Homo sapiens: one gene and its partner. The protein of the gene in region 1 interacts with the protein of each later gene in a pairwise test. Each region holds a gene or a part of one and is shown on either strand. Other genes may lie near its edges. The genes, in order: RRAS2 and LGALS4.

Evidence for each region.
Region 2: the proteins of RRAS2 (region 1) and LGALS4 interact in a two-hybrid assay, tested with the Homo sapiens proteins (one large-scale study listed by BioGRID and IntAct).

Annotation. Positions count from the first base shown.
Region 1 is NC_000011.10:14,352,406-14,356,220, forward strand, and holds part of RRAS2 (ras-related protein R-Ras2), read right to left. Parts: intron 1-3,815. UniProt on the Homo sapiens protein: GTP-binding protein with GTPase activity, involved in the regulation of MAPK signaling pathway and thereby controlling multiple cellular processes. Regulates craniofacial development.
Region 2 is NC_000019.10:38,802,743-38,806,557, reverse strand, and holds part of LGALS4 (galectin-4), read left to right. Parts: coding exon 1-97; intron 98-2,662; coding exon 2,663-2,689; intron 2,690-2,777; coding exon 2,778-2,816; intron 2,817-3,006; coding exon 3,007-3,036; intron 3,037-3,815. UniProt on the Homo sapiens protein: Galectin that binds lactose and a related range of sugars. May be involved in the assembly of adherens junctions.

The DNA of each region.
Region 1 (3,815 bases):
TTCTTTGCATCTTTGAAACACATTTTTCTTTGCAAAAGAAATAAATCTAAGGCCTACCAACTACAAGTTTAAGTTTCAATCTCAAACAGACTCAGCAGCTCTGCCCAAAGTAATTCAAGATCAAGGCCTTTCAACAAAATTCATGACTATTAACTCCATACTGTCTACACGCAAAGTGAAAATCCTTTACTCATTATCACTTTTCATTAAGGAAGGCACGGTGGAATTAATATCCTAAAGACCATTTTCCCCAACCAGAAAAAAAGGCGTGTCAAGTGGCATCACAAAATCTGTTTCAATTTTAAAGACCAACTTTAATTTGAAAAAGAAACTTTTAAAATATATATATATAGAGAGAGAGAGAGAGAGAGAGAGGGAGAGAGAGAGAGAGAGACATTTTTTTTTTTTGAGATATAGTCTTGCTGTGTTGCCCAGGCTGGAGTGCAGTGGCATGATCTCCGCCCACTACAACCCTCCGACTCCCAGGTTCAAGCAGTTCTCCTGCCTCAGCTCCTGAGTAGTAGCTGGGATTGCAGGCGCCCGCCACCACACCCAGCTAATTTTTGTATTTTTAGTAGAGACAGGGTTTCACCATGTTGGCCACGCTGGTCTCAAACTCCTGACTTCAAGTGATCCGCCCGCCTCAGCCTCTCAAAGTGCTGGGATTACAGGCATGAGCCACCGTGCCCAGCTAAAATTTTTTTTAATAGCTTTAAGAAAGTCTCTTCCCACTCTACTCCCCCAATTTAAAGTTATCAATTTATTTTCCTAACTGAATGGAGCAGACTATTTTTATTCAAAGCTTAGGAAAGACCATGATATTTCAGCAATCAGATGAATTAAAATCCCATCCCGGTAAGCAGTAGCCTGTTATCTACCAAGGGAAAGCAGTATTCTTGACCTACTCAACAAAAGTGCTCCCACTCGGCCAGGCATGGTGCAGGCCCAGGCGGGTGGATCACCTGAGGTCAGGAGTTCATGACCACCCTGGCCAACATGGTGAAACTCCACCTCTACTAAAAATACAAAATTAGCTGAGTGTTGTGGCACATGCCTGTCTATAATCCCAGCTACTTGGGAGGCTGAGGCTGGAGAATCGCTTGAACCTAGGATGTGGAGGCTGCAGATAGCCAAGATCACGCCATTGCACCACTGCACTCTAGCCTGAACAAGAGCGAAACTTCGTCTCAAAAAAAAAAAAAAAGTGTCCCCACTCAATTCCTACAACTTCCTTATCCCAAAACAGGGGTACGCATGCACACAAACACACACACACAGAGACAGACACAAAGAGAAAGAGAATGAACAAAACAAGAATAAGACGTAAGTTAAGAAACTGCAGGTTAAAATTTCCTTCTTCTCCAAAGGCAGTCATCCTCTATAAGAAAATGTTCTTCCTTGGGTGTACAGAAATTTTATCTAGGAATTGCCTGCAGGACCATTTCAACTGTTCCCCAAACAAGAAAACCTTTAGTATGGTACCACTTTGGGGGCAGGTGTCTTATTTCTCAATGCTAACAATTCATTTGTACATTAATGTTAAAAAAGTTTAAACACTAAAAATGTCTAGTTTCAAAATAATAGATAAAAGTTAACAGTTTAAGTAGTTTCTAATTGCAGGAAAAATCTTCGAGATGTAGCAATGGAACAGCAAATTGGGAATTTAAACTCACAACCTTCACATGTGGATCAATTAACTATTAACACAAATCTCCTGAAATCTCTTCTCGGCTCTCTGCCCCAGGAAAAAGCAATGAAAAAGTACTCAGCAAAAGACAAACTTTTAAAAAGCAATGCTGGGTCCAGACTAACAGGTCATAGGACTGACTGAAATTCAAGACGTGAGAAATCAGCTAACCCCTACCTACCTCAAAATCTGGCAAATTGTTGAATAAAAAGTTAATATGCTAAAAAAAATATATAAACCTCCCTGTAAATTTTTAAAACATATATGGCCTTTTCTCAGAGTTACCAGATAAAGCACTAACCCCAAAATTAAATGCTTACCTCATTATTTCTTAAAATTAAATCCAAACTGACAAAAAGAAATTTCTCCAACTCAAAACGGAATCCACATTCATCACCTGAATACCACACAGAAGTAAGGAGGGGAGTATAGGGTTGAGCCAGGAAGGAGAGGGCAATGAAGACTTAAAGTAATAGACCAGATTATGTGTCAAAGAAAAATGAAAAAATTACAAATTTTGTTTTGGAGGAACACCAAGATACAGAACTAACAGCAGCAAATAAAACCAAGTAACAATTTCTTTTTTTTTTTTTTTTTTTTTGAGACAAGAGTCTCACTCTGCTGCCCAGGCTGGAGTGCAGTGGCGCAACCTTGACTCACTGCGACCTCCACCTCCCAGGTTCAAGTGATTCTCTTGACTCAGCCTCCCGAGTAACTGGGATTACAAGCACGCACCAACACGCCCGGCTAATTTTTGTATTTTTAGTAGAGGTGGGGTTTCACCATGTTGGCCAGACTGGTCTCAAACTCCTGACCTCAAGTGATCCACCCACCTTGGCCTCCCAAAATGCTGGGATTACAGGTGTGAGCCACCACGCCCAGCCAACAATTCTTATTTGCTTACTCTGTAGATGGCACGGTGCTGGATGATTTACCTGCATTATTTTATTTACTCCAAAAACCCTAAGGGTACTATTATTTAATGTTATTCTCCCTTCTCAAATGGTGAAACTTGGGTTTAGAGAACCTAAGAAACTTGACTAAACACACAGCTAGTTAAATGAATAAAAAAAAAAAAACACTCCTAGAATTTCAAAAGTGCAGAAATTTGTTCAACCAAACCCAACATTTCATGGGGAAGAAAGAGAAGCTCAGTCGAGATAAAGGCAGATTAAGAAACTACTCAAAGTCACCTGGGTAGAGAGACATAGACCCCACACACCCAGCAGTCTCTCCTAACCACTCTGTACCATCCTGAAGTCATTTCCTACCTAGAGTTTACTTAACATTTAGGTGTTCTACCTACCAACAGAACTTTACACATTTTTCAAAGAAATATGAGCAACAGAAAGGAGGAGGTAATGTACACACACATATTCATTAAATAACATAATACTTTACATTTTATCATGGCTACTTTATGATTTGTTATATTTATTTTTAAAAAGGAAAAGGTATCTCAATTTAATTATCTTAGTTCCCTAATTTTGCAACTCTTCATATGAACAGAAGGTAACAACTAAATCTAAGTCAAAGAAAGTTAGGGTAAAAGGCATTGTTTTTAAATTCTCCGTTCCCAATTTTATATTTTTTTCTGCTCAAAATCACATAGTAGAAAATATATATACTGAAAATTGTAAAAACAGTCTGGTGTTTCAGGAGTCTTAAAAAAGTAAGTCCAATTTGTGCCATTCTAATCTCCTACCAAGAGAACTGACTTCTGCTTATTAAAATGATTAGTCTGCTGTGTTCTCTCCCTCCAGTTACTACTGCTAAACAATCATGGTGGAATGAATTTTAACATTCCAGGAGTCAGGCAATGAATAGCTACCCTATTAAGTGTAAATATAAAAAAATCGCTTTAGCTCCATAATCTAAAATTAATATAAAAATGTATGCAGCTTTACTACAGACTGTACTAGACACTGTTCTAAGCCCTTGACATGTTAACTCATTTAATTTCACAGCTATATGTGGTCCACCATATTTCCCCAGTTTACAGATGGGGAAAACTAAGGTACAGAGAAGTTAAGTAACCTGCCTAAAATTACACATGCAGCAAGTGGTAGAGCTGAGACTGCATCCAGGTGGTCGGGTTCCTGTCTCTCCAAAAAGGCTCCTTTTTGCA
Region 2 (3,815 bases), on another chromosome or scaffold:
CCGGCTTCCCCTACAGATGGTCACCCACCTGCAAGTGGATGGGGATCTGCAACTTCAATCAATCAACTTCATCGGAGGCCAGCCCCTCCGGCCCCAGGTGTGAGGGGTCCCATCCCTTCTTGCGTCCTTTCTTTCTAAATTCAGTTCCACATTCATTTTTTTTCTTTTTTTCTTTTTTTCTTTTTTTTTTGAGACGGAGTCTCACTCTGTCGCCCAGGTTGGAGTGCAGTGGCGCGATCTTGGCTCACTGCAAGCTCCGCCTCCCAGGTTCACGCCATTCTCCTGCCTCAGCCTCCCAAATAGCTGGGACTACAGGAGCCTGCCACCACGCCCGGCTAATTTTTTTGTATTTTTAGTAGAGACAGGGTTTCACTGTGTTAGCCAAGATGGTCTCGATCTCCTTACCTCATGATCCACCCACCTCGACTTCCCAAAGTGCTGGGATTACAGGCGTGAGCCACCGCAGTTGGTCTATTTTTTCTTTTTGAGATGGAGTCTTGCTCTGTCTCCCAGGCTGGAGTACAGTGGTGTGATTCTGGCTCACTGCAACCTCTGCCTCCCAGTTTTAAGCAATTCTCCTGCCTCAGCCTCCCAAGTAGCTGGGATTACAGGCACCCACCATCACATCTGGCTAATTTTTGTATTTTTAGTAGAGACGGGGTTTCACCATGTTGGCCAGGCTGGTCTGGAACTCCTGGCCTCAAGTGATCTGCTGGCTACAGTCTCCCAGAGTGCTGGGATTACAGGTGTGAGCCATGGTGCCCAGCGCATTCCACATTCATTTATTTCCCAAGCATCTCCCTCTGCTGAGTTATGCCAAGAGCCCAGTGATGATCAAGGGATCCCACTGGGAAGACAGACCCATCACTGCAAGGGATAAAGGCCGGGATGGGGAGGCCCTGGCTGAAGGGTTGCAGTTGGGTTTGGGCCCAGACAGAGGGATCAGGGCCAGGACAGGAGGGTGGGTGGAGGCAGGCAGAGGGGTCAGGCCCAGGGCTGGAGACAGGAATGACTGAGATATCTCTGGGCCCTGACCTCACTGGGCTCACAGACATGGCATCAGAGAGTGACAGCCCAGAAATGGTCAGGTCTGTGATAGGGAGGGCACAGGCAGAGGGGCAGGGGCTGGGATATGGAGTATACAGGAGGTTTGGGAGCCTACAGGAAGGGCTTGACTAGTCATGGGTCAGGAAGGAAGTGCTTCCTGGAGTAGGAGGAAGTGTGTAAGGTGAGTCAGAAAGTGAGGATAAGGAAAGGCAAAGAACACACGATAGTGAATGAATTCCCTAGAGGTTGCTTAACACAATCATTAAAAATAAATAACATACAATTAAATTGAGTTTATCAATATTATTATTATTATTATTATTATTATTATTATTATTATTATTTTTGAGGCAGGGTCTGGCTCTGTCACCCAGGCTGGAGTGTGGTGGTGCAATCACAGCCTACTGTATTCTTGACTTCCTGGGTTCAAGTGATCCTCCCACCTCAGTCTCCTGAGTAGCTGGGACTACAGGCACGCACCACCAGCCCCAGCTAGTTTTTAAATTTTTTGTAAAGACAGAGGGGAGGAATTTTCCTATGTTGTCCAGGCTGGTCTTGAACTCCTGACCTCAGGTGATCCACCCACCTCAGCCTCCCAAAGTCCTGAGATTACAGGCGTGAGCCACAGCCCCCGGCTTATAAAGCTACGTTTATTTGTTTGTTTGTTTTTTGTTTTTTGTTTTTTTTTTAGATGGAGTCTTGCTCTGTGGCCCAGGTTGGAGTGCAGTGGCATGATCTCAGCTCACTGCACCCTCTGCCTCCCAGGTTTAAGGAATTCTTCCTCAGCCTCCCAAGTAGCTGTGATTACAGGCACCTGCCACCACGCCCGGCTATATAAAGCTACTTTTAAAAGGCCTTCAGAATAGCTGGCTGAGAATAGAAGTCAAGGCAGAATGGAGTTAATTACAAGGAGGAGAAAAGAGAAGGTAACAGAGAGAAAGAGAGAGAGTAAAAGTTAAAGGTGTTAGACTTGGGAGGGTGAGGCGAGCGGATCACCTGAGGTCGGGAGTTTGAGACCAGCCTGACCAACATGGAGAAACCCCATCTCTATTAAAAATACAAAATTAGCTGGGCGTGGTGGCGCATGCTTGTAATCCCAGCTACACCGGAGGCTGAGGCAGGAGAATCACTTGAACCCAGGAGGCAGAGGTTGAGGTGAGCAGAGATCGTGCCACTGCACGGCACCCTGGGCAACAAGAGCGAAATTCCATCTCAAATAAATAAATAAAAGTGTTTGGCAGAAGGAAGCCCCTGCGCTGAGGTGTGGCCAAGACAGAGAGAGAGGCAGAGACACAGGGACAGAGGCAGAAACTGAGATCAAGATCAGCGAGTGAGGGCCCCGGGACAGCAGGAAGACAGCAAGGGGAAGGGCACAGAGAACAAAATGGACCAAGCATTGTCCTAAAGCTTTGGGGTGACTCACTGGGCATCAGCGATCCCAGAACATGGGGTGCCCCTCTCCGTGAATCTGTGATCGGGGTGCCACCCTTTGATGCCAGAGTTCTCTGGCATAGTGGTGGTGGTGGTGGGCCACCCCAGGGCAGGCACTCTCGACATCTTTCAGTCGCAAATCTGGGGACCCTCTCATAACCGCTTTCTCTTTCTGTGCCCACAGGGACCCCCGATGATGCCACCTTACCCTGTAAGTACTTGCTGATAGGTGAGGGTCTTCCTCCCTAGTGGGGTCCCTCAGCCCCTCTCACCCTTCCTGCCTTCTGTCCATCGTTCAGGGTCCCGGACATTGCCATCAACAGCTGAACAGCCTGCCCGTGAGTGGGAGGGCTGGGAGGGCCCCGGGTGAGGAGTGGGAATGGTGAGAATTGGGGTAGGGGGAGCTAAGAGGGGTTGCAGCCCAAGGTGTACTAACCCAGCACCTAGAGAAACGCCGGAGTCTAATGGGTGTGTCATAGATATCTGTCGACTCTTGGAGAATAATATCGCTTCTTCCTCACTTCACAGACCATGGAAGGACCCCCAACCTTCAACCCGGTATGGCTTGGGGAAACAGAGATGGATGGTGGGGAGGGGGCACGGATCTCCAGGGAATCTGAGACAGCCAGAAAGGGAGTGGGCTGAGGGTTTTGGGGTGGGAGGTAGGGGAAGGGTAGATAGAGTTCGTGGTCAGGTTTAGGGAGCAGAAGGAATTGGGGATGTTTTCCAGGAGGAGTGGGACCTCTCAGAAAATTTGTTCTTGGGCTGGACATGGTGGCTCACGCCTGTAATCCCAGCACTTTGGGATGCCAAGGCGGACAGATCACGAGGTCAGGAGATCGATCGAGACCATCCTGGCCAGCATAGTGAAACTCTGTCTCTACTAAAAATACAAAAATTAGCTGGGCATGGTGGCGCGCGCCTGTAATCCCAGCTACTCAGGAAGCTGAGGCAGGAGAATCGCTTGAACCAGGGAGTCGGAGGTTGCAGTGAGCCGGGATCGTGCCACAGTACTCCAACCTGGTGACAGAACGAGACTCCATCTCAAAAAAAAAAAAAAAAAAAAAAAAAGAAAAAGAAAAGAAAAAGAAAATTTATTCTTGGCCAGACACGGTGGCTCATGCCTATAATCCCAGCCCTTTGGGAGGCCAAGGCAGGTGGATCACTTGAGGTCAAGAGTTCCAGATCAGCCTGGTCAACATGATGAATCCCCGTCTCTACTAAAATGACAAAAGTTAGCCAGGTGTGGTGGCGCACACCTGTAATCCCAGCTACTAGGAAGGCTGAGGCAGCAGAATTGCTTGAACCTAGGAGGCAGAGGTTGCAGTGAGCTGAGA